Homo sapiens: one gene and its partners. The protein of the gene in region 1 interacts with the protein of each later gene in a pairwise test. Each region holds a gene or a part of one and is shown on either strand. Other genes may lie near its edges.

Region 1 (3,500 bases):
GCCGAGGCTCCCGGCTCGCCCCGACCCTGCGGTCGCCGGCGTGCCCCGCGGGTGAACCCTGGGGGCTGGTACCTTGGGGGACGGCAGTCGGGTCTCAATTGCCCGCAGGTCCTTGTCCAGCTCGGCGCTCAGCTCGGCCAGCTCTCTCTCCAGCAGCACCTGGGGGCGGGGAGAGGCTGGGCAGTGAGGGGCAGCGCACCGTGGGGGTGGGAGGCAGCGGTCAAAGATCGACTGTGAAAAGCAAGGCCAGCGCACCGGGCCGGCGTAAGGGCAGGCCTCAGCGCACGGGCCGGGCTCCTGCCAGGAGGTGTGGCCCAGGGTGCCAAGAGGGCATCCCCGCCACGGCCTCTCACCTGCCCAGCACGCCCCGGGAGTGCCTACGCGCTTCCTGATCCCGCGATTCCGCAGTCCTGCCAGTTTCTGCCAAGTTGTGTCTCTGTTACAGCACCAATGGGGTTCCCCATTTCCTCTCCCATCTTCTCCCGCCCTCCAAGGCCTGGCTTCACTGTGCCCATCCAGGTTCCCCCGCCACCCCAGGGACCGGAGCCCCCACCCCCACGCTGCTTCCTGCCAGCCTCTGCTATGGGTCTTCGCCGAATCAGGCCCTCGGAGCTTCTCAAGGGTCCAGCTCCACCTCCAAGAATATTTCCTGATAATCCCAGTGCGCACTGACCACTCCCTTTTCTGCTCCTGCTTTGGCCAACACATATTTATTTAACACATGTTTACTGAGCGCCTCCTGTATGCCAGCCACTGTCCTGAGTGCTGGCATTACAGAAATAAACCATGTGGGACTGGAGAGAGAGCTCTTAGTTCGTGGCCTATGCCCATGGTTACTGGGGCCACCAAAACCCTAATCTCCCTGGTTTATCAGGCTGCTGTCCCCAGCACCCTGCAGCACTCACCTCAATGGGCTGGGAGGGCTTCTCACCAGGGTCGTCCACCAGCGGTTTCTTGGGCTGAAGGGTAGAAAGGGTGTGTCAGAGCAGGTGAACTCACTTTCCAAAATGTATCAGCTGAGGGTGCGTGCACACCCCGAGAGCCAGCCAGCACTCACCCTCTGCCCAGTCTCTAGTTCCTGCAGAAACTGGTTCCAGGACTCTTCCGTCCAGACATTGTCTACTTTTTCCCGGCGTCTGAGCACCTGCGTGGAGGTGGGTGGGTGTCAGCTTGTGAAGAGGGCTACTGGGACACTGGCCAGGCTCAAAATGCAGGCTTGCAGGCCCCTGCCCTTCCCCTGGGCCCACGGTGTCCTCCAAGGGATTCAAGCTGAAAGGACATCGTGGCATAGGGTCTTGGCCATACGGCATACAGCTGGGGCTGACCAGGGACTATGCTGGGTGGGCTACCTGATTTGAGGGCTGCAGCACAGTGGAGAATGCTCCAGGTCTGTAGTTGAAGGTGCTTCTAGGTAACTCTTCAGAGTGGTCCCAGCTTCTTCTAAAGAAAGGGAAGGACATCTCTTCAGCTTCCTTTTAGGGAGACTGAGGCAGAAGCCAGCACACAGCCCTCTCACCCTGCCCTTGTCCCTGCTGTGGGGTCTACTCTGCCTCTGACTGCCCTGCCGTTACTCTGGAAGCAAGATTAAACTGTGGAAGTGTGTGAGCTCCAAGCTTAAATTCCAGCTCTACTGTTTAGTGGATGTGTAACCTTTGAACAAGTTACTGATCCCTCAGAGCCTCAGGCTCAGAACCTGTAATATAGAAATGATTTGGTGAGAGAACATATATGAGGTGCCCGGGAGAAGGCCTCACACACATATTTGCTCCAGGTGTGGCCCGACCCTCTCCTGTGGGCCTTTTTGCTAAAGTGTCCTGTATGTGTGTTTGGTCTGGCCCCATGACTGTGGCTATGTGCGTCTGTGCAGCTTTGAAGAAGCTGGTCTTTCTGGGTGCTGTGGCTGAGTGATCGTACACCCATGGGCAAGGAAAGCCAGAGGCAGCTCTGCCCTGCAGCTCTGGCCAAGTTATTTCTGCTCCCTGGGCCTAGTTCCATGAGGGTGCTGGATTCAGTGACTCTGTCTGTGAGACCACCCCAGCCACTGCAGTACAGCATGGACACATCTGCCTTAGCTCCCCTCCAGGGCCCCTTGCTGGCTGGCTTACATGGAATGTTCCAGCCTCTGTTTGAAAGTTTCCACTGAGAGGAACCACTGCATCAGGCTTATCAAATAATACAACGTCTGACCAAGGGTTGGGATTTGTTGGCTGTAATAATGACTCCATTCTGATTTTGGTAATAATAAAAGTGACTGTGAGAATGTCATTCCTAACCTAAGGAAGCAGTAATCATAATTTTTTTTTTTTTTGATACGGAGTCTCGCTCTGTCGCCCAGGCTGGAGTGCAGTGGCGCAATCCCGGCTCACTGCAAGCTCCGCCTCCTGGGTTCATGCCATTCTCCTACCTCAGCCTCCCGAGTAGATGGGACTACAGGCACCCGCCACCGCGCCCGGCTAATTTTTTGTATTGTTTTTAGTAGAGACGGGGTTTCACCATGTTAGCCAGGATGGTCTCGATCTCCTGACCTCGTGATCCGCCCGCCTCAGCCTCCAAAAGTGCTGGGATTACAGGCGTGAGCCACCACACCCAGCCTTGTAATCATAATTAAGCCTGTATATTACTAATGTTTGTGCAGGCTTGCTATGTGCAAAACATGATGCATGATACACACATGATCACACTGAACCCTCTGGGCATTACCACTTAAAAGATGGGGACACAGAGGCTCAGACTGAGTGAGGTACCCACAGTCACATGGCTAGTGGCAGTGCACAGGCTTAAACCCAGAACTCAGCGTCCAAATCTTGAGCCCTTTGCCTCTGAACCTTATCGGTGATGCCCAGAGCTACGGGCCAGTTTCAGCCATGCTAATGAGACGAGTCCTTCCCTGCAAGGGAATAAGAAACTCAAGGATTTAACTCTGAGAGCAAAGATCCTGATTCCCACGGTGGTGCTGACCCCGCCAGGGCCCCAGCAGCCGGGCGGAGCCTGTGGTTTGCACAGAGGAAAGGAATGTCATCCTTATCCCTCCAAGGGGCTCCTCTCTCTGTGCTATCAGGCTGGAACTTGGGTTCTTCCATATCCCTTGTTTTCTCTCAGGTTTCAAAGTGGACAGCGCCAGGTCCAAGTTCCCCTCAACAGTTCTGTCCACGGCTGTCCTGGCCGCCCCACTCCCGGTCTCATAAGACCGGTGGGATCTTTGGGGCAAAGAGTTCCTGCTGCTGACCACAAACGCATCACAGGCGTTCCTGGCCAGGAGCGGGTGCCAGGTCCACTCTTGCCTACCCTTCCCCCCTTGACCCTGTAGGGAAGAGAGTCTATGGGGGTGGTGGAGACCCAGAGATGGGACAGAGCCCAGACGGACACGGAAGTGAGACCCCACTCCTGGCTGGGCTCCGAGGCTGTGCCGGCTGTGGTCACGAGGGGGCGCCCGTCCCATGGTGTCTCGCGGGCCGCGCCCCTCCGCAGCCCTCGGCCCCGCCCCACTGTGCTCACCCACT
Region 2 (3,089 bases), on another chromosome or scaffold:
GCACCTAGGTGTGAGGCTGGCCCTGACCTCTGCCATTCCCTTCCCCTCAGGAGATCAAGAGCAACAAGACAGTTCTGCACTTGGCCGTGCAGGCTGCCAACCCCACTCTGGTTCAGCTGCTGCTGGAGCTGCCCCGGGGAGACCTGCGGACCTTTGTCAACATGAAGGTGGGAGCTGGGGCTGGGAAGTGCAGATTGTGTGGGGTACGGTAGGGGGGGCAGTGGGATGTTAGGGGTCCTGGGGGCTGTGGACGTGGAGGGGACGATGTGTGGGATCTGCAGGGGAAAGTATAGGAAGCAGACACAGATTGCCCCAGAACATGTAGTCCGTGGACACAGGGATGCATGCAGCGTGGCTGTGGCCGGGGGAGGTCTGGGATGTGAAAGGACAAGTGTAGGACGTAGACAAGGCAGAAATTGAAGTGCAGTTTAGAGGCCTGGGCCAGCTGAGCCCAGATCCCCACCAGCCCTCCCCTTACTTTTCCAGGCCCACGGGAACACAGCCCTCCACATGGCGGCTGCCCTGCCCCCTGGGCCGGCCCAGGAGGCCATCGTGCGGCACCTGTTGGCAGCTGGGGCGGACCCCACACTGCGCAACCTGGAGAATGAGCAGCCCGTTCACCTGCTGCGGCCCGGGCCGGGCCCTGAGGGGGTAAGTAAGCACTGAGCCTGCCTGTAGAGTGGCCTCTGAGCTCGCGGGCGCGGGATGACCTCCCTGCCCCACCCAATGCTCGCTTTCAGAGAATGACTTCTAATCTCGGAAGGTGACTTCAGCCCTCAGGCAACCCTGACTCTATAATGTGACCTCTGACCTCAGTGTTTCATCCTTTACCCCAGAATGGTGACTTCTCTGATCTCTACCCCAACCCTGACCTCACAGTGTGACCTGTACTTCCAACCCTGAATCTTGCTTGACCTCAAGGTGTGACCTTTGATCCCCCCAAGTGTGACCTCCTACCCCCTGCCCCTAACCTTGGGTCCTGACCTCAGATGTGACCTTTGACCTCTTACCTGTTCCCTTCAATTCCCTCTCATTCCTCACCCCCAGGTGGGAACCCCCAGCCAGCAGCCCCTTTCCCTTCACTGAAGTTCTGCTTCCTGACCCTTTCTCAGTGTACGAACCCAGGCCTTGACCTTCTTCCCACATCTTTATTTTTATTTGTTTGTTTGTTTATTTATTTATTTTGAGGCAGCGTCTTGCTCTGTTGCCTAGGCTGGAGTGCAGTGGCATGATCATAGCTCACTGCAGCCTCGAGCTCCTGGGCTCAAGGGATCCTCCCACCTCAGCCTCTCCAGTAGCTGGTACTACAGGCAGTCACCACCACACCCAGCTAATTTTGTTTTTTTTTTTTTTTAAGAGATGGGGTCACACTATGTTGTCCAGGTTGATCTCAAACTCCTGGCCTCAATTGATCCTCCCGCCTTGGCCTCCCAAAGTGTTGGGATCACAGGAACCATCACTCCCGGCCTCCTTCCCAAATCTTTTTTTTTTTTTTGGAGGCGGAGTCTTGCTTTGTCACCCAGGCTGGAGTGCAGTGGTGCAATTTTAGCTCACCGCAAGCTCCACCTCCCAGGTTCAAGTGATTCTCCCACCTCAGCCTCCCAAGCTGGGACTAAAGGCACACGTGCCACCATGCCCGGCTAATTTTTGTATCTCTGGTAGAGGCGGGGTTTCGCCATGTTGGCTGGGCTGGTCTTGAACTCCTGACCTCAGGTGATTTGCCCACCTTAGCCCCACAAAGTGCTGGGATTACAGGCGTGAGCCACTGCACCTGGCTCTTCCAAAATCTTGACTCTGGACCTCTGATCTTCAAATCCAAAGGGACCCACTCAACCTCTCTTCTCTAGCCCCTCCCTCTGCATGGCGTGCCTTCCCCACCTCTCCTTCCAACCTGACAGACTTCTCTCCCTCCTTTGCCTTGTCTACAGCTCCGGCAGCTGTTGAAGAGGAGCCGTGTGGCGCCGCCAGGCCTGTCCTCTTAGGACTCAAACCCAGACCCTGGACTGATTTTCCAGTCCCCACCGTCCTGCGGGACAGCCAGCGTATGCTAATGTTGCAAACCCATGATAATGTATGTGGAATATCCTGCCATTGGGGTTTTACATTAAAACCCCAGAATGGCTGCAGAGGGGTGAACAGGCCCCAATATTTGGGGTGCTGTGATACCCCTCTTCTACCCACAAGGAGCCCTCTTGATGATTTCTGTGAAATCGAGGCCCCTTGATTGTTTCTGTGAAACACCCTGCACCCCTAGTCCTTTCCCCACTGAGATCTTTCGGGTTCTCTCCCCTAACTCAGCTCTTCGTTCCCAGAAACCCAGATGTAATCCCCCTACGTGGTGCTTGGGGCATCCCGATACCATCTCAGTAAATCTCCTACAATGGCCTCCTCACCCTCCCCGGGACCCACACCCTTCAGGTCCTCACCCTGAGACAGGAGGGACCCTCTGAGATCAGGGACCCTTAGGTCTCACTGCTCTCTGATTCAGAGCTCAGCTGGGCCCCCAGTTCCAGACCCCAGCATTCCCGGTCACTCCCTCCCTAATCTGAGCATCACTCAAGCTCTTTATTAAACTCAATTTGGGCCAGATTTGGTGGCTCATGCCTGTAATCCTAACACTCTGGGAGGCCGAGGCGGGCGGATCACTTGAGGTGAGGAGTTTGAGACCAGCCTGGCCAACATGGTGAAACCCTGTCTCCACTAAAAATACAAAAACAATTGGCTGGACATGGTGGCATGCGCCTGTAGTCCCAGCTACTTGGGAGGCTGAGGCAGAAGAATTGATTGAACCCAGGAGGCGGAGGTTGCAGTGAGCCGAGATTGTGCCACTGCACTCCAGCCTAGGTGACAAAGAGAGACTCTGTCTCAAAAAAAAAAAAAAAAAAAAATTTAAACTCAATTTGGACTAGAACCACTGTTGTCTGATCTCTGGGGGCACTGGTGCAGGGGAGTGGCTGTGATGCCCGCTGAGGGGTCATATTGGGATGAATGTGCCTGAGGGGGGAGGATGTAGCAGCCACCATGGGTGCCAAGTCCATATCCTGTCACCCTCACCCTGGCGACACAAGAGGGACTGGCCTTTAGGAGGC
Region 3 (3,500 bases), on another chromosome or scaffold:
CCATGGCCAGGATGAGGGCAGAGTAACAGAGTTTCTGGTGGTCTGGGGGGGACAAGGCAGGCAGTCAGAGTCCCCAAAGATGGCAGGAAACCCCAGCAGATGGCAGGAACACCCTCCAGATAGCAGGAAGTTCCCTCCTACCCCGCCCTCCAGCCTCACCCTGCGTGTCTGTCTGCATGTCCCTCGCCAGCTCTACAGGCAGCACGGATGACACAAGCGTGGAGATGATGGCTGCATCCAGGCTGCACATGGCGCCAAAGCACTTGAGGAGCAGCAGCCGCAGTGATGCTCGGTGTTCCTGGCAGGGAACCCTGCGTGCTCAGTGCCTGGAACTCCCCCACTATCTAGGTCTCTCCATTACCCCTCCCCTCCATCCTGCACATACCATTTGGTAATAGGCCACCAAGGCCAGGACAGACTCGAACTCGTTTCTCTTGCACATTTTCTTGCAAACTTCAGGGTCTGCATCAGTCTACAGAAATGAGGAAGTGAGAGCATCAGCCACCATGAGCGGAGCTGTGCAGCCGCACAAGAGAGGGCTGAGCACATATGTGTAGGGGAGACTCCTAGCACTGTGAGGGATGCTACAGGGTGGGGGCCACTGTTCCCCATGTGGGGTATGTGTGTGGGACCCCACCCTTACCAGAATATGCAGCAGCTCCTCTAGGTAGCAGCGGATGACACCCTCATCCTCATATAGTGCCCAACTGCGCTGCTGGGCGTCGTCCTTCCGGCGAGCCAGGTCTGCAAAGATCACCTCCAGCCTCTGCTGGTCGTGGCAGACCTGCCCTGAGGGCAGGGCCATGCTGAGGTCCTAGAGGGAGAGGGCAAGGCATGACTCAGCACACTCCCTGCCCTCACCATCTCCAGGGAGCCTCCAAGGCCTGGAGAGTCCATCTGTGGACTTTTACTCCATGAACTCAAGTCCCTCCTGGCCCACACTGGACAGGAGGCTCAACTCCAGTCTTGATGACCTCCCAGGACAGGAGTCAACGGGAGACTCATCTGTAGGGGGTTTTCAACAGCTCGCCTCTCATCCCAGACCTGGATAAACACCCCCAACTAGGAGGGCCATGAACTCTGTCACTGCCAGAATGTGACTCTGAGACCTCACTCTCCCATTCCACACAAAATGGCACAGGCCTGTCATCTACCAACTTGCCACATTTTCCTTGAACCCTGCTGACCAGGCACTAGCTGTTGTGCCCAGCACAGCCAAGCCCATTGGCCCACTCCCCAACACCCAAACCAGAAGTGTAACAGGAACCATGGAGCACTAAAGAGGGACCTTTGGTCTGTCTGACCCCCATCATGTATGCTGGGCTCACTGCCCCCATCCTGCTCATGAGTGCCAAGGATCCCACCCATCCCATGATGCCCACACACCTCACTCCCTCTCATCCATGTCAGCACCTAGGACTCCATCCCAGCTCTCCCAGCACCCATGTCTCTTACTGCCAAGGTCAGCAAGGCACTACCCTCACCCACGCCGTGTCCATTCCTTCCCTGCAGCCAGACAGAACTCTTGGCCACCCGCATGTCGTCTTATCTGTCACCTGCCCCAGGTCTCACCTCCTCCTACAGCACCCACTCCCTCACTCCCTGTGTTCCAGTCCTGCAGGCCTTGTTCCACTTCCTCCCACAAGCCAGGCTCAGTCCTGCCTTGTGGCCCTTGTCCAGGCTGCGCATCTGCCTGGAATGCTTGTCCTTCCTTTCTGCTTCAGAAATCAGCTCAACGTCCCCAGTGCCCAGCACAGTAAGAGCTCAGAGCCAGAGCTTGAGAAATACCTGTAATGTACAGGCTGGACAAGTGTGTGACGGTGGGAACAGGGTGGGTAGCAGGGTGGCCCTGCTGTGCCGCCCACCCTCACCTTGCCCTCTACGAGTGAGAGGAGGACCTGCTCCATGACTGGTGAGCTGGCCGGCACCGAGGCCTGGATGTGACCCACTATGATGCCGATGGCCACCCGGCATAATTCGTGGCTCAGGCCAGTGTTTCTCCGCACCAGCTCCATCAGCTCGGCCCCAATGGTCCTGGGCACAGCCGCCTCAGCTGCTGCCTTCTCCTCTGTGGTCCCCAGGCTCAGTGTACCCAGGGCTTCCAGGTCATCAGAGGCTGAGGTTGTACCAGTTGCCACTTCTTCTTCTGCAGGGGGTTCAGGTGCTGATGCCTTGGAGGGAGGGGGCTGGACTTGGGACACGGTGGTGTGGGTGCCTCGGCGGGGCACAGGTGGGGGTGTGGGTGAGCAGCTGGAGCCTGGTTCAGATGGGCTGGAGCTGGTATAGAGCGTGTCCAGGGAGGTGCTGCTGACTGAGGAGCCGCTGGACACAGAGTTACCCCCGGAGGGCATGGTGTTGTGGCCACCTGCGAGCAGTGAGTAGAAGCTGGGCCAGGGCAGCCCCCTGGAAAACCATACCCTTCACAGCCCAGATCCCCTGTCCCCTAACACAGGGCCTAGTTTCTCTGCTAGGCACTGCCTCCTCACAAAGCCCAGAGCCCCTAATTGCCCCAAAATGGGAGTCCTGTCCTCTTCCCCAGCTTAGAGCCTCCATTTCCCTGACACAGGCAGCACAACCATTCCAAGCATAGGGTGCCTCCACCTGAATTCCCCTAACCCTGCCTTCTTACCACTCCCAGAGGCCATCAGGGCCTCGCGGTCTCGGCGCTTCACTGGTGGGGGCGGTGTGGTGGGTGCTGCTCGGCGAGGCTGTGGTGGGATCTGGGAAGATGGAAGTGGGATCTGGAAGATGGAAGTAGGATCTTGGAGGACAGACTGACATCTAGAGCGTCAGCGAGGCTCGGGCCCTGAGCCCTGGCTGTGGGCAGGACTATGGCTCTGGGCCGCATCACTCCTGAGTGGACCCCTTGAGCCTCTGGATGAAGCCTCAAGTTCCACCCACCTCCCTTCTCCACGATGTCCTCCCCACACACCTGGTAGAGGCCTCCATCTGCCCCAAGATGCTCAGAACTGGGTAGGCTGTGCTGCCGCTCGAACCCAGCTCGACACACCCCATTGGGCTGCCTGGCTGCAGCAGCATCCAAGTGGTGGTCACTGGTTGATGAGGTCATAACTGCAACACTGGAGGCTGAAGGGCCTCTGCGTGACAGGGTCTCTTTCCGGTGGTGGATCAGCTTCCTGATGGAAGGACAGGAAGACTATTGGGGGGTTGCATCTCACAGCTCAAAGTCCTCATATGCCCCTGTGGGATGCTGGGACCCCATAGCCCAGGCCCCTCAGACATCCCCATCTCCTCCATGCTCCACCCCAGCCTACAGTACCCCATACTATCCTCAGTCCTGCGCTCTGCACACCCCTGGTGCTCACTGAAGGACCCGACCCCACCTTGCTCACTGGGAGGTGCCATTCCCCCACCACCCTTGCCAACCCTCGCATTTCCCAGGCCCACCTGCCCCATGACACTCATTGAAGAACCCCACCCCACCATGCTCACCGGGAGGTCCCACTTCACTCCCCTCAACACTCACTGGAGGACTCCAC
Region 4 (3,500 bases), on another chromosome or scaffold:
TTAATAGTGGAAGTAATGGCTTACTGCATGTGGGGCACACCTAAAAGAATAAGCTACTTTTAATGTACTTTTGAGGCTATTAGTACCTGAACTATGAAATCATCATTTTTCAGGTGGGGATAGCAGTGCAACAGAAAGCTGGGATGAGGAGCTTTCTCCTTCCACTGTGTTGTATACAGCAACACAGCACACACCTACAAGCATCACCTTAACTGTTAGAAGAACCAAACCCAAGAAGCGGAAAAAGAGTCCAGAAAAGGGTCGTGCAGCACCAAAGACGAAGAAAATCAAGGTATGCAGGGTAAAAATATCTTAAATAGAAATTGTCTGAAATAGCTTAAATTTTGGAGCAAGAATGCACCAAAATTCTTTTAAGAAGTTTGATCCAGGTGTTTGAAGGGCCACTTTTGTTCTACTTGCAAAAATCAGCTAATCTGTGTTATGTACATGTAGACCAACCTCTCTTCTGCCACACCATATCATCACCACTGGCTCAAAGTTTCTTCTACTCCAGTCCCCATCCCAGGTATGAAATTCCAGCCCTACCTGGCACAATCCCGTATGTGTTGCAGCCTCAAGTCTAGGCTTCCACTATCCTTACAGTATCTCCCCACCTCTCAACCCCAAAGTACAGTCTGAAATTCTTGTCCTGGTTACATGCCTCATGTCTTTGGGTTGATTGTTTTTCCTTGTTTCAAAAAAAATAAAAATCAGGAAACATCTCTTGTATGGTCTAGGTTTCCTCAGTGTCATGGTCACTTTCCTGTATTCTCAGCTAAAATGTCTACGGGAGAAACTTCTTCTGGTTTGTGTTCTTTCTTCCCCATCACAGCAACTTTGTTGCTTCTAGGTGACTTGTTCATCCCTTGTTAAGGGGATTGGTCTTTGTTTCCTTCTTAGTTTCAAAACTGGTAAATCTGCAACTTTAAAGTTTTTTTTTATTTACTTTTTCTCTTAGTATCAGAGGTGCATATAGGATTTAAGAGATGCATGCTCTTCCCTGTTAATTACCTAGCTTCACAGTAGAAAGTATTAAAATTAGTCTCAGAGTTCATTGGCCTTGAGCTACCCCTATTCTTGGTAATAGTTTGGGGAATTCCATTGTATTTTTTACCTAGAGAAAGGGGGACAGAATAGAACACTAGTTTGTGCCTTAGTTTTAGTCTCAGATAGGTATAACTGTCATTCTTGGTACCAAGTTTTGTTTGTTCTACTTGTTTTCCTCCTTGGGATAGGCATTTCGAGAGGGATCCCGGAAGTCCTTGCGGATGAAGGTAAGGGGTAATCTTCGCTGATGCTGTGTTTTACTTCACTGTGATCTTGCATTTTGGTCAGCTTCTTTCCTGACATTGATGGTCTGGGAATCTTGGACTCTGCTTTTCATTAGTTTGTAGTTGTTGCCATTCAGTTTTCATAGAGCTTTTCTCCAAAGTAGATTTTCTTGGCCATTTTCTGAAATATTTTCCCTTTCTGTAATCAGCCTTCATTGATTGGTTTTTCATTCATTGCTTTCCTAGGGGGTAAGTGACATTTTTCCAAACAAAATGAGGCTAGTGTGTTCTGTCACTGTGATTGAACTCAACCTTAGGAGTGGAGTTTTTCTGGTAATGATACAGGATCTCTTGTGCATCTACCCTAGCACTGTGTGGGCTTTAATTGCAGGACGCTTGTATTATTGATAAGAATTACTGTTTTCTCTTAGCATATCTGTTTGGTGGAAAAAACTTAGGTAATGCTAGCATGTTTCTTAAGATATCAAATAAAAGAGTTTATGAAGTATGATTTTGTAAAGAACTTGGAGAATAGAGCAAGTATGTGGAATGGTTTAAAAGAAGTGTAAGGTGCTGGTTGATTAAAAATAGCTTGCCAAAAGGAGATTTGATTATGCTGTCTGGTATCCTCCTTTACGTGTGTGTGTGTGTGTGTGTGTGTGTGTATAAATATATATATATGAGGAAAACATGCCTCTCAAATTATTACTGGGGGCTTCAAAGCATTTAAATAGAATTAAATTCAAGTTTATGAGTATTCATATTCCTAAATGATACAAAAGCAGGATCTTTCCTATTGAGAGTTATAGGGCATAAATATTAAAATCTTTAGTAAGGCCAGGCGCAGTAGCTCACGCCTGTAATCCTAGCACTTTGGAAGACCAAGGCAAGTGGATCACCTGAGGTCAGGAATTCAAGACCAGCCTGGCCAACATGGTGAAACCCCATCTCTACTAAAAATACCAAAATTAGCCAGGCGTGGTGGCAGGCACCTGTAGTCCCAGCTGCTTGGGAGGCTGAGGCAGGAGAATCGCTTGAACCCAGGAGGCAGTGGTTGTAGTGAGCCGAGATCACGCCACTGCACTCCAGCCTGGGCAACAGAGCAAGACTCCATCTCAAAAAAAAAAAAAAATTCAGTAAGGATAAGCTTTTTAGGATTGCTTTATGTGCAGCACCAGTGTGACTGGTGTTAGCAAAGATTACAGGTAGCACTTTACCTAAAGTTTGAAGGCCCCACTTAGTATCTATCTTTAAACAGACTTGCACATACCTGTGAAAGAGTTGGGAGAGGACTCAGAGCTACAGAGCATCAGAGGCCTGGGATGTGTCTTGGAAGACAAATCAATCATGCCTTTGCTGGATCCGTCTCTTGCAAGTGGCCAAGTTTGCTTTAGCTTCCCCTTTATTTTTGTCTCATTTGCTTAGAGAGGGGCCTTTTAAATAGACTTTGGAGGCAGATAATAGCCCTAATCCTGGCTACTAAATGCTTTTCTCTTATCAAGCAACTATCATAACTTATCTCCAGAAGCTCGAAACCTTTCAAAAGCTATAAACTGGCTCTACCAGAAAACTGCACATAAACCCCATATTTTGCTTACAGTTTTGGGAGGTTGACAGCCTCACAGGTGTGTTAAAATTTAGAAAAAAAAATTACTAGTCATTTTGATTCTTTTAATTCTAAATTGAGTTATAAATTTTATGCTCAGAATTACTAGTTTAAAACTCCTCCAGTGATCCAGGTGGGAGCCATAAGAATTAGAAAAAATTATCATTTGGATTTTTAATCCCAGTGTCAAGAGCAGCTTCCCTACTGAAGACTTAATTGTAAATCAGGGTTTCTCAGTCTTGACACTGTTGACAGTTTGGACCAGATAATTCTTTGTTGTGGAAGGGACTGTTCTGTGCTTTCAAGATGTGAACAGGATCCCTGGTGTCTACCCACTAGATGCCGGTAACACTCATACACTCAGTTGAGATTATCAAAAATGTCTTCAGATATTACCAAATGTCACCTGGGTGCAAAATTTCCCTCAATTGAGAACCACTACTCTAAACCCAACTGAGGTAGAGTCTCTAATGCCTTGAAGGATGGGACAGCAGAGTAAACACACAGTGAGATTAGCGAACAATGGCTAATACTGTGACAGAGGCTTCCAGAATACAGTACACTTATCAAGTGTAAGTTTAACAATTGCCACTTAAAGCTGGGAATATTGTTTGGACACTGCC
Region 5 (3,500 bases), on another chromosome or scaffold:
GCAGAGGTTTCAGTGAGCCGAGATAATGCCACTGGACTCTAGCCTAGGTGACAGAGTGTGACTCCATCTCAAAAAAACAAACAAACAAAAAAGCAGTATCTGCAAGTGCAGTAAAACACAGTATATTTTATTGAATATTACTATAAAACAAGGAAAAGAAAATTGCAATAAGTTCAGATAGTGAGATTAATGATATAGCGGTGCCTCAGTGGCTAAACCATGGTTTATGATTTAAAAAAATTTATCCTAAGTTGACCACTGTAGAAGAAAAAAAGAACTTCATTCCCACACTTTGCCTCTGATCATGTGTATAGTCTGTGGCTCCTTATTGTTTTTTGTTTGTGATTTTTTGAGATGGAGTTTCGCTCATTCCCCAGGCTGGAGTGCAATGGCGTGATCTTGGCTTACCACAACCTCCGTCTCCTAGGTTCAAGTGATTCTCCTGACTCGGCCTCCCAAGTGAGTAGCTGGGATTACAGGCGTGCACCACCACGCTTGGCTAATTTTGTCTTTTACTAGACACGGGGTTTCCCCGTGTTGGCCAGGCTGGTCTCGAACTCCTGACCTCAGGTGATCTGCACACCTAGGCCTTCCAAAGTGCCGGCATTACAGGTGTGAGCCACCGTGCCCGGCCCCATGTTTTTAACAATCTTACCACAGTAGGTACTACGTCTCTAACCATCCGTGCTGAGCTGCTTTGGGTTGCCTTGCTCTGCCACTAAGGGTTAGCATCACCTAGCTTGCTGGGCCTTCCATCATTACATTGGATCATGGGCACTGGAGAATATTATAGGAGGAAAATACTTCCAATACACTACCAAATACAACTGTTTCTCCATATCCTTATCAGTAGAATGAGGTCAACTAGATTATGTTATTTTTTTGGTTATAACAGTCTGTGAATCTACAAGACAACAGGAAGTAATACCAAAGTGATGAAGAGTTGATTTACTGTATGTGATTTGTTTCAAAATACTCCAGGAATTAAAAAAAAAAAAAAGTGAAGAGTATAGAGGAAAATAATTGTCAAAATATTAATAACTGTTGAAACTGGGTACCTGGGGCTTATTATAGTGTTTGTGGTATGTTTAAATTTTTTTTTTTTCTGAGATGGAGTCTTCCTCTTGTCACCCAGGTTGGAGTGCAATGGTGTGATCTCGGCTCACTGCAACCTCCGCCTCCTGGGTTCAAGCGATTCTCCTGCCTCAGCCTCCCCAGTAGCAGGGATTACAGGCGCCCACCACCACGCCCAGCAAATTTTTGTATTAGTAGAGATGGGGTTTCGCTATGTCATCCAGGCTGGTGTTGAACTCCTGACCTCGTGATCCTCCCGCCTCGGCCTCCCAAAGTGCTGGGATTACAGGCGTGAGTCACTGTACCCAGCCAGAATTGGGATATATCTTTAAAAAGAAAAGAGGCTGGGCGCAGTGGCTCACGCCTGTAATCCCAACACTTTGGGAGGCTGAGGTGGGAGGATCACGAAGTCAGGAGATTAAGACCATCCTGGCCAACATGGTGAAACCCCGTCTCTACTAAAATACATAAAATTAGCCAGATGTGGTGGCATGCACCTGTAGTCCCAGTTACTCGGGAGGCTGAGGCAGGGGAATCACTTGAACCCGGGAGGCGGAGTTTGCAGTGAGCCAAGATCCTGCCACTGCACTTCAGCCTGGGCTACAGAGCAAGACTCCATCTCAAAAAAATAAAAAATAAAATAAAATAATTGAAAAGAAAGGCTGAGTGCAGTGGCTCATGCTTGTAATGCCAGCACTTTGGGAAGCAAAGGTGGGCAGATCACTTGAGTTCAGGAGTTCAAAACCAGCCTGGGCAACATGTTGAAACCCTATCTCTACAACAAATTAGCTGGGCATGGTGGTGCATGCCTTATAGTCCTAGCTACTTGGGAGGCTGAGGTGAAAGGATGGCTTGAGCCTGGGAGGCGGAGGTTGTTCTCCATCCTGGGTAAAAGAGCCAGACTCCATCTCAAAAAATAAATAAATAGAAAAAAGTTTCTTATAAAGATCCTTACCAAAATATTTATGGATGGAATGATGTAATTTCAGGTATCTGCTTCAAAACATTGTGGAGGATAGATATTTTGTTTTGTTTTAGAGATGAAGTCTCGCTATGTTGCTCATGATGGTCTTGAACTCCTGGGTTCAAGTGATCCTCCCACCTTGGCCTCCAAAAGTGTTGGGATTACAGGCGTGAGCCAGCATGATAAGCCAACTATGATTTTAGATGAAACAAGATTGGCCAAGAGTTGATAAGTGCTCTAGTTTAGTGACAGGTAGACAGAGGTTCATTATATTCTTCTCTCGGGTTTGAATTTGCCATAACAATTAGAAAAAAATGTACTTCACTTATAATACAAACAAAATTCCATTTAAATATGCTGTTGAGCACAACAAAAGCTCAGGGTAAAAAAGCTATTTCTAAGTGTCAACATACTATAATAATCCTTTTTAAAATTAGTTACAATAAATCCTCTACCAGTAAGAGAACAATAAAATGTAGACGGAAGTAACCTTGTATCTGTCTACTTTATGACTTTGAATCTAAGAGGTTCATGCCAATTGTAGAATGTTTAAATAAATGTCGGAGGGAGTATATTTTAGGAGTATTCAAATATGACAGATTGAGAGGGATCAATTTATTTCACATGCCTCATTAAGAGTAAAGTTAAGGCCTGGTGCGGTGGCTCACACCTGTAATCCCAGCACTTTGGGAGGCTGAGGCAGGTGGATCACAAGGTCAGAAGTTCGAGACCAGCATGGCCAACATGGTGAAACCCCGTCTCTACTAAAAATATAAAAATACAAAAATTAGCCAGGCATAGTGGCGTGCGCCTGGAATCCCAGCTACTCGGGAGGCTGAGGTAGGAGAATAGCTTGAACCCGGGAGGCGGAGGTTGCAGCGAGCCAAGATCCCGCCACTGTGCTCCAGCCTGGGTCAGAGCAAGACTCCATCTCAAAAAAAAAAAAAAAAAAAAAAAAAAAAGAATAAAAAGAACCCGAGTCTGCTGTCTCTAAAATTTATGCTCTTTTAGCTGCATCATTAATCATCCTCTTAATTCATTCTCTGACCCCATCTAGGTAATGAACCTACACTTAGAAAAAAATCAAGTTGTCTTGAGCTGTGCCATTTCATAACCCTCTTCGTAAGTCCCATATAGCTCATCTTACTCCACAAATACAGAAACACATGGGGCTTTCCCTCTAGTTTTTTTTTTTTTTTTTTTTCAGACGGAGTCTCGATCTGTCGTCCAGGCTGGAGTGTAGTGGTGCGATCTTGGCTCACTGCAACCTCTGCTTCCCAGGTTCAAGCCATTCTCCTGCCTCAGCCTCCCAAGTAGCTGGGACTATAGGCGCTTGCCACCTCGCCCCCCTAATTTTTGTACTTTTAGTAGAGACGTGGTTTCACCATACTGGCCAGGCTGGTCCCGAACTCCCGACCTTGTGATCTGCCTGCCTTGGCCTCCCAAAGTGCTGGGATTATAG
Region 6 (3,500 bases), on another chromosome or scaffold:
AGGTCAGGATCTCGAGACCAGCCTGGCCAATACGGTGAAACCCCGTCTCTACTAAAAATACAAAAATTAGCCAGGCGTGGTGGCGTGCACCTGTAATCCCAGCTACTCAGGAAGCTGAGACAGGAGAATTGCTTGAACCCAGGAGGCAGAGGTTGCAGTAAGCTGAGATCGCACCACTGTACTCCAGCCTGGGCGACAGAGACTCTGTCTCAAAAAAAAAAAAAATCTACAACTAGCCTAATGTAACTTTCAGAATATTCACAAGGTAGAGTCAAATGGTGTCTAGACTGGCTTTGTCTTCTCTATTGTTTTTTTCCCAGAATCTCTGGACAGTGAGTAGGGTGCTGCAAAATGGATTTGGGGTGGGTGTAAGCAAATCACAGCATATTCATCCACCAAATATATTTCATCCACCAAAAGATTACCTTACACACCCTGAAACTGCATACTATTAAATTCCCTGCATTTTAAAAGAAAAAGTAACACCAAAAGCACCTCATGCTCAAAAATATCTCTACTACATATTTTACACATAAGTAAACCAATTTGGTTTATATATTATTCTCTGGGTGAGAAAAGATGACTCTAAATAAAGTAAACCTATCATACATTCTCACATTACCCATACCAAGGTAAGAAGAAAAAGTAAATGAGGCTGGGCACGATGGCTCACACCTGTAATCCCAGCACTGTGGAAGGCCAAGGCGGGTGGATCACTTGAGGTCAGGAATTCGAGACCAGCCTGGCCAACATGGAGAAACCCTGTCTTTACTAAAAATACAAAAATTAGCTGGGTATGCTGACACATGCCTGTAGTCCCAACTACTCAGGAGGCTGAAGCAGGAGAATTGCTTGAACCCAGGAGCCGGAGGTTGTAGTGAGCGAAGATCACGCCACTGCACTCTAACCTGGGCAAAGGAGTGAGACTCCATCTCAAAAAAAAAAAAAAAGAAAGAAAAAAGAAAAGAAAAAATAAATGAACAGTTTATTAATTAATTATTTTGGTAAAGAGCAATTTTGAACCAGGAAGCTCTTCAAGGAAGGGTGAAATGAGGTGAGACTGGATTTCCTGGATCAATAACGGAAATTATGAGGTCACTTAAGTTCCTTGGACAAGAAGGTGTAGGAAGTGTACAAATGACAAAATGTTTAAAAGAGCAAGGGGCTCAAATATAAATTAGCCTGTTTTTGCAATCTTGTCAAAGGTCTTGAAGATGACTGATTTGTCACTGAAAATCTATTCACCAAATGTCTCTGCTGAGAGTTAGGGACTAATTTCTTGAGGAATGGTAAGCCTTGATCAATTTCAAATGAGTTGAGTCATCTTAATCTATGGGGAATTCAGTCTCCCAAATTCTACTCAGTCTCCTTACTCTCAACTGACCTCTTTCTCCTTCATTCTAGGTATTCTAAGATTCTCCCATTTGCAAGAACATACAGAACTCGACCTATAAATATAACCAACCTCCTCCCAATATAGTATATGACATCCATTTAAAAAAAAGTCAAGCCCAGCATCCTTAAAAGGTTCTTTTAAAGGTACAGAATATAGAACATAAACCCATTTCTACAAAAATATTGATATATAGTTGTGCATACAAAAAATATTTAAAAGTATGAGTACCAGATATATATTCAAGATGATCGGGCAATTTTCCATTTCTTTCATAATACCTACTTGTATTCTCCAATAATTTTTCAACAATGAGCATGTATTCTAATGATTTTTATTAAATAAAAATTTTAAATCTTTGTATCATTTTGGTAATTACTTTTGATGAAACTGACTGATAATATTCCCTTGTAAACCTCTCATGAAGTTTTTAGTGAACTCTGGGAGTATCCACATTGATTAAGAGAAGAAAAGGAAAGCTACTAATATGTCTCCTATTGTTCAAAAATATTTCAGGTAAAAATTTAAGGTAAGTTCTTAATTTCTTCTCTTTTGAATAAATCCATATTATGGGATGATTCTACTCTTAATCCAAACAATAAGATTTTACTATGCATCTATGTGAACTGTCACTCACAAAAATCAGTAACTTTTATCTAACAAAAAGAAAAACGTACATATCAACAAGTTGGCTTTTCAGATTTCAGGGAAGTAACAAATAGGGAGTTATTTCATCTACCAAAACATTAAGACAACTATATTGTAATAAAAATTCTTCTATTTGTAAAAACGTAGATTCCAAGTTAACCAAAACATTTTTAATTCCTGGACACCTTCAAACATATTAGGCATTATATGTGTAATTTTTGTTTTTTTGAGACAGAGTCTTGCTCTGTCGCCCAGGCTGGAGTGCAATGGCATGATCTTGGCTCACTGCAACCTCCGCTTCCCAGGTTCAAGTGATTCTCCCATCTCAGCCTCCCAAGTAGCTGGGACTACAGGCACACGCCACCATAGCCAGCTAATTTTTGTATTTTTAGTAGATACGCGGTTTCACCATGTTGGCCAGGATGGTCTGGATCTCCTGATCTCGTGATGTGCCTGCCTCGGCCTCCCAAAGTGCTGGGATTACAGGCGTGGGCCACCGTGCCCGGCCTAGGTGTGTATATTAATAAATGAAGAAAAACGCAGGTCTTACATGTATCTCAAAAAAAAGTCTCTACCAACTACTAAATCCTTTGTATAGGCAAGAAATAAAATTGATCTGATAAATATCAGCAAACTGTAGTTATACCTGTTTATCATATTTTAGAAAAAATATTGACTATCCCATTTTCTAGAGGTTAGAATAATGAAACTATCTAAATTTTTATTAAAAATGACTCTTAGGGGGCCAGGCACGGTGGCTCACGCCTGTAATCCTAGCACTTTGGGAGGCCGAGGTGGGTGGGTCATCTGGGGTCAGGAGTTTGAGACTAGCCTGGCCAACATGGCAAAACCCCATCTCTACCAAAAATACAAAAATTAGCTGGGCGTGTTGGCACGTGCCTGTAATCCCAGCTACTCGGGAGGCTGAGGCAGGACAATCACTTGAACCCGGGGGACGAAGGTTGCAGTGAGCTGAGATCGCGCCACTGCACTCCAGCCTGGGCGACAGAGTGAAACTCTGTGTCAAAAAAAAAAAAAAAAAAAGAACACTGAGCAAAAACACTTATTACACATGATAAACAGATTTTTTTCTACTTTATAGGCAAAAATTACATTTCCACACAATAAAATGAGTGTTGGGTTAGTTAACTCGAGCTAGTGGCTAAGACATGATGCTATAATAAGGCTAAATTGGCCAGGTGCGGTGGCTCACGCCTGTAATCCCAACACTTTGGGGAGGCCAAGGCAGGTCGATCATCTGAGGCCAGGAGTTCCAGACCAGCCTGGCCAAAATGGGGAAATCCCGTCTCTACTAAAAATACAAAAATTAGCCAGGCATGGTGGTACACACCTGTAGTCCCAGCTACTTGGAAGGCTGAGGCAGAAGAATCGCTTGAACCCAGGAGGCGGAGGTTGCAGTGAGCAGAGATCGAGATCGCGCCACTACACTCTAGCCTGG
Region 7 (3,500 bases), on another chromosome or scaffold:
GGGAGTGGAAGAAAAGACTGCCAAAGACTGGGGGAAGGTTAAATCCAGAAAGACTTTGCACTCAGTTTGACACAGAAGTTCCTTTTAGTTCTAGCTCTTCTTTTATTGGAGACTTAAAACCTAGGCGATACATTTTTATAGATGTTGTTTTTGCAGGAAAACAAAGGAACTTTGGTCACTGAGTAACTTTGGTATTATGTCAAAGGTACCAACCCCAGTTGCATGGCATAAGAAGATTACTTATACCACTTACATGTTAAATCAAGTCTCAAGTCACCAAATTTCATTTATTTCAGAGATGAAAATTTTGATCCTGATAATTGATTTAACTCATGTTTAAGAATCTACATAAAGATCTGGAGGAATATTTTGCCTAAGTTATTCTTCACATTGCATAAGGTTATTTTCTTAAATAACACTGACAAGAAAGATGAATTAAATACACATAAAGTCTTCAAGATATTAATATGTTCTAAAATGCTTTAAATATTTAGCATTTCATCCTGCTTTGAATATAAAGATACTGCTGTGGATATGCCATATATTTAGCTTTTTAACAAATAGAGTATTTTAGCTTAAAACAGATAAATTTGAAGAGGTTTTCTGAAGATGGTTTTTAAATAGATTTTAGATAATAGACTCAGTCTTTGGTTTTGATTTGCAGTTCTTCTATTAAGAAGCAGTAGTAAATCAGTGAATTGGGAAATTAGACCTATATTGCAGAAACCTCCCTCTCCCAGGAAAACTGTTGTATTCTAGACCTCATTTTGGCATCTGTCATGGGAACTTGGTGGAGTACTTTGTCTTTGAGGTAGAGAAGTTCAGCTCCTTTCCAGCTTACTGTTCTCTAATGAGGCTATTTTGATCTTAGTTTCTCATGTACTTACTGTCTTGTTAAAAGTGCCTTTTGAAATGTTGCTTGATCTTTCCTTTAGTAGATTTTGATTTTTTGTAATAGACGCACTAGTTGGGGAATTTTTCCCATTTATGTCTGTGATTCCAGGCTAACAGCAGTCCAGATCATGAGATGTCATATGTGCAGAAAGGAATACCAGAGATATATTTAAGGCCCATGTGTGAAATGACAATTGAGGAAATGCTTTTTTCTTTTAAGTGATGGAAAAGCCATTGATAATGGCTCATATATAATGTCAAAGTTCCGAATCAAAAATTTAAAGCAAACTTAATAACTTTCATGTTGTGCCAGCAAACTGACATCTGTACATTGATTTTAATGGCCTTAATTCCTGGGAATCTCATTTATTTTTGAGATCTAGTTTAAAACAATAAGGACATCTAGTCCTAATACTTTGTAATATTTTACTTTGTGATATTTTAACATAATGGAATAACAAAATAGTAGCTGAAACTATGAAATTAACAAAATTAAAAAGATTAAAAATGAGCTTTCACAAATTATACTGCTCATAATAGATATCTGTACTTTTGTTGGATGTAAAGTGTAAAACTCTCCACCAAAAGTTGTTGATTTTCAGCTGCAATTACACATTTCACACATGCCAGTCATTATATTGTCCTTCAGAATCTTTAAAGCAGCTTCTCTTCCTCTTCCTCCAACTATTCATAGTTAGCCTTTGTTTGACCCTCACTGCTTTGAGAATCAGTGTTGGAATAAGCCTTGGTTACTCATAGAGGATTGCTGACATTCCTCAGGTAAACTGAGGAGAAAATAATTCATATTGATATCTCTGCCATTAAACCTGTAAAATCTGTGAAAAGGGAATGCCTCATAGTCATTTTTATGTCCTTCGCACATGGAACAACTTCTGATCTACAGTTGGCGTGAAATAAGCATTTTTTTTAAACTGAGTTTTGTGAAAACTGCAAATATTATGAAAACAAAAATCAAAAGAGCTGTCCATCTGCTTTCCACTGCACACCATAGCCTTGGCTTCTCATTCCAGTTCCCTAATCCTAATATTTCTACTTGCTCAACTTTTGTGTTTTTCTTAGGAGCTTCCCACATCTTTTGAAATAAGGTAAAAGACACATAACTGTATTGCAAAATTAAAGGTTGAACTCATGTCCTTTACTTTATTATTTTCTGTACTTTTAAGTTATGAGCACTTAATAGAATTGTGATGAATACTTTTTTGACTCCCATCCCCACCCCACTCAGGGATAAGGGATCAGATGCATCATGGAAGAATGATCAGGAACCACCACCAGAGGTAAGTATAAGTCTTTTTATGCAACATTTTATAAAGTAGGGCAGGACTTAATCTTATAAATTTTATCATTCTTGCTGTTAGGGAAGTCATTAATACTGGCTAGCAGCCATACTGCCTTATCCTGTCCTAGCGCATGTATTCTCTCACCGTCCTAGATGACTATTTCATACCTTTCAGTGAAAGGTTTTGATTGATCATTTAGGAAAAAAACTTTTTTCAGTTACATTTAGTTGTATTTTAATAATTATCACCTTATCATTTACATTGTAGTTTACTATTTTTGTCAACTTTGTTGATGTCTGATAAAGGCAGGCTGTCATTATTTTTTAAAAATTTAATTGAGTTTAGTAAATACACCATATGGGACATGAAGACATGGTGCTTTTAATAGCTGTCCTTCTTTTGGAAGTACAGAATCATTGGAAGCACAAGATCATTGGAAGCTACCTACCTCTCTACTTTTTACGATATAACTACCTTTCTAAAAAGAGACCTTGATTTTCTTTTTGTATCTATGTCAGCAAAACAATAGTTTTATGCCCCAAGGTGACTTGATAATCTAGTCTTCCTAGAGATGTGAAGTAAATTTAGGAATAATATGTAAATAAGTTAATGATTTAATAGGATTACTTGGTTAACATTCCATGAAAGTGTTTAAGCAGATTATCTTGAGGGGTTTTTTTTTTGAATTACAACAATGAATATATTCATTTCTTAAAAATAGCATGTATTTATACAGTATAAAATAAAAATGTATATAAATATTTTTATAAGTAAAAATTATACATGAGAGTTTTTAAAGCTTGCTCAGCAGTTCTTATGAAGTTTTCTCAGTATTACAGTTTTTTTTTTGTTTTTTTTTTTTTTAACAAATATAGACATGGGGGTCTCAGTGTGTTGCCCAGGCTGGTCTCAAGCTCTTGGCCTCAAGTGATTCTCCAGCCCTCAAGCAAGCTTCTGCCTTGGCTCCCCAAAGTGCTGGGATTACAGGCATGAGCCCCTTGCCCAGCCAGTATTACAGATTTTTGATACTTACCGATTTAACCTTGGCCATTTTAGATGTTTAAAGCAATCGTAAATCATGATCTGTGTTTCTAATTTTACTGAGGTATGAATCAGGTTTATGCCCACTTGGAGGGTTCTATACAGGTATGAATCACTTAACCAGTGAATGATCCTTGCTTAGTATCTGAATTGAAATGGAATTATGTTTTCTAATTAATGTTATGTATTTATGTGATTTCAGTTAAGGCTCTGAATATTCACTTAATGTTCTGAATTAAGTTTTAGAGTATCTATAGCATCTTA

The links.
Region 2: the proteins of SORBS3 (region 1) and NFKBID interact in binary tests that used the Homo sapiens proteins (3 or more experiments, as listed by UniProt).
Region 3: the proteins of SORBS3 (region 1) and NCKIPSD interact in binary tests that used the Homo sapiens proteins (3 or more experiments, as listed by UniProt).
Region 4: the proteins of SORBS3 (region 1) and SETD5 interact in binary tests that used the Homo sapiens proteins (3 or more experiments, as listed by UniProt).
Region 5: the proteins of SORBS3 (region 1) and OIP5 interact in binary tests that used the Homo sapiens proteins (3 or more experiments, as listed by UniProt).
Region 6: the proteins of SORBS3 (region 1) and ABI2 interact in binary tests that used the Homo sapiens proteins (3 or more experiments, as listed by UniProt).
Region 7: the proteins of SORBS3 (region 1) and NAF1 interact in binary tests that used the Homo sapiens proteins (3 or more experiments, as listed by UniProt).

What each region holds. Positions count from the first base shown.
Region 1 is NC_000008.11:22,561,927-22,565,426, reverse strand, and holds part of SORBS3 (vinexin), read right to left. Parts: coding exon 3,496-3,500; intron 1,441-3,495; coding exon 1,350-1,440; intron 1,145-1,349; coding exon 1,058-1,144; intron 960-1,057; coding exon 906-959; intron 619-905; exon of another isoform or gene 554-618; intron 421-553; exon of another isoform or gene 354-420; intron 160-353; coding exon 73-159; intron 1-72. UniProt on the Homo sapiens protein: Vinexin alpha isoform promotes up-regulation of actin stress fiber formation. Vinexin beta isoform plays a role in cell spreading and enhances the activation of JNK/SAPK in response to EGF stimulation by using its third SH3 domain.
Region 2 is NC_000019.10:35,887,452-35,890,540, reverse strand, and holds the end of NFKBID (NF-kappa-B inhibitor delta), read left to right. Parts: intron 1-50; coding exon 51-167; intron 168-486; coding exon 487-651; intron 652-1,928; coding exon 1,929-1,982; 3' UTR 1,983-2,589; downstream 2,590-3,089. UniProt on the Homo sapiens protein: Regulates the expression of IL-2, IL-6, and other cytokines through regulation on NF-kappa-B activity. Functions in the regulation of inflammatory responses.
Region 3 is NC_000003.12:48,679,416-48,682,915, forward strand, and holds part of NCKIPSD (NCK-interacting protein with SH3 domain), read right to left. Parts: coding exon 3,488-3,500; intron 3,138-3,487; coding exon 2,933-3,137; intron 2,742-2,932; coding exon 2,630-2,741; intron 2,366-2,629; coding exon 1,872-2,365; intron 815-1,871; coding exon 644-814; intron 473-643; coding exon 386-472; intron 299-385; coding exon 160-298; intron 43-159; coding exon 1-42. UniProt on the Homo sapiens protein: Has an important role in stress fiber formation induced by active diaphanous protein homolog 1 (DRF1). Induces microspike formation, in vivo. In vitro, stimulates N-WASP-induced ARP2/3 complex activation in the absence of CDC42.
Region 4 is NC_000003.12:9,435,615-9,439,114, forward strand, and holds part of SETD5 (histone-lysine N-methyltransferase SETD5), read left to right. Parts: intron 1-113; coding exon 114-292; intron 293-1,235; coding exon of another isoform or gene 1,236-1,274; intron 1,275-3,500.
Region 5 is NC_000015.10:41,326,092-41,329,591, forward strand, and holds part of OIP5 (protein Mis18-beta), read right to left. Parts: intron 1-3,500. UniProt on the Homo sapiens protein: Required for recruitment of CENPA to centromeres and normal chromosome segregation during mitosis.
Region 6 is NC_000002.12:203,331,394-203,334,893, reverse strand, and holds part of ABI2 (abl interactor 2), read right to left. Parts: intron 1-3,500. UniProt on the Homo sapiens protein: Regulator of actin cytoskeleton dynamics underlying cell motility and adhesion. Functions as a component of the WAVE complex, which activates actin nucleating machinery Arp2/3 to drive lamellipodia formation.
Region 7 is NC_000004.12:163,135,891-163,139,390, reverse strand, and holds part of NAF1 (H/ACA ribonucleoprotein complex non-core subunit NAF1), read left to right. Parts: intron 1-2,140; coding exon 2,141-2,192; intron 2,193-3,500. UniProt on the Homo sapiens protein: RNA-binding protein required for the maturation of box H/ACA snoRNPs complex and ribosome biogenesis.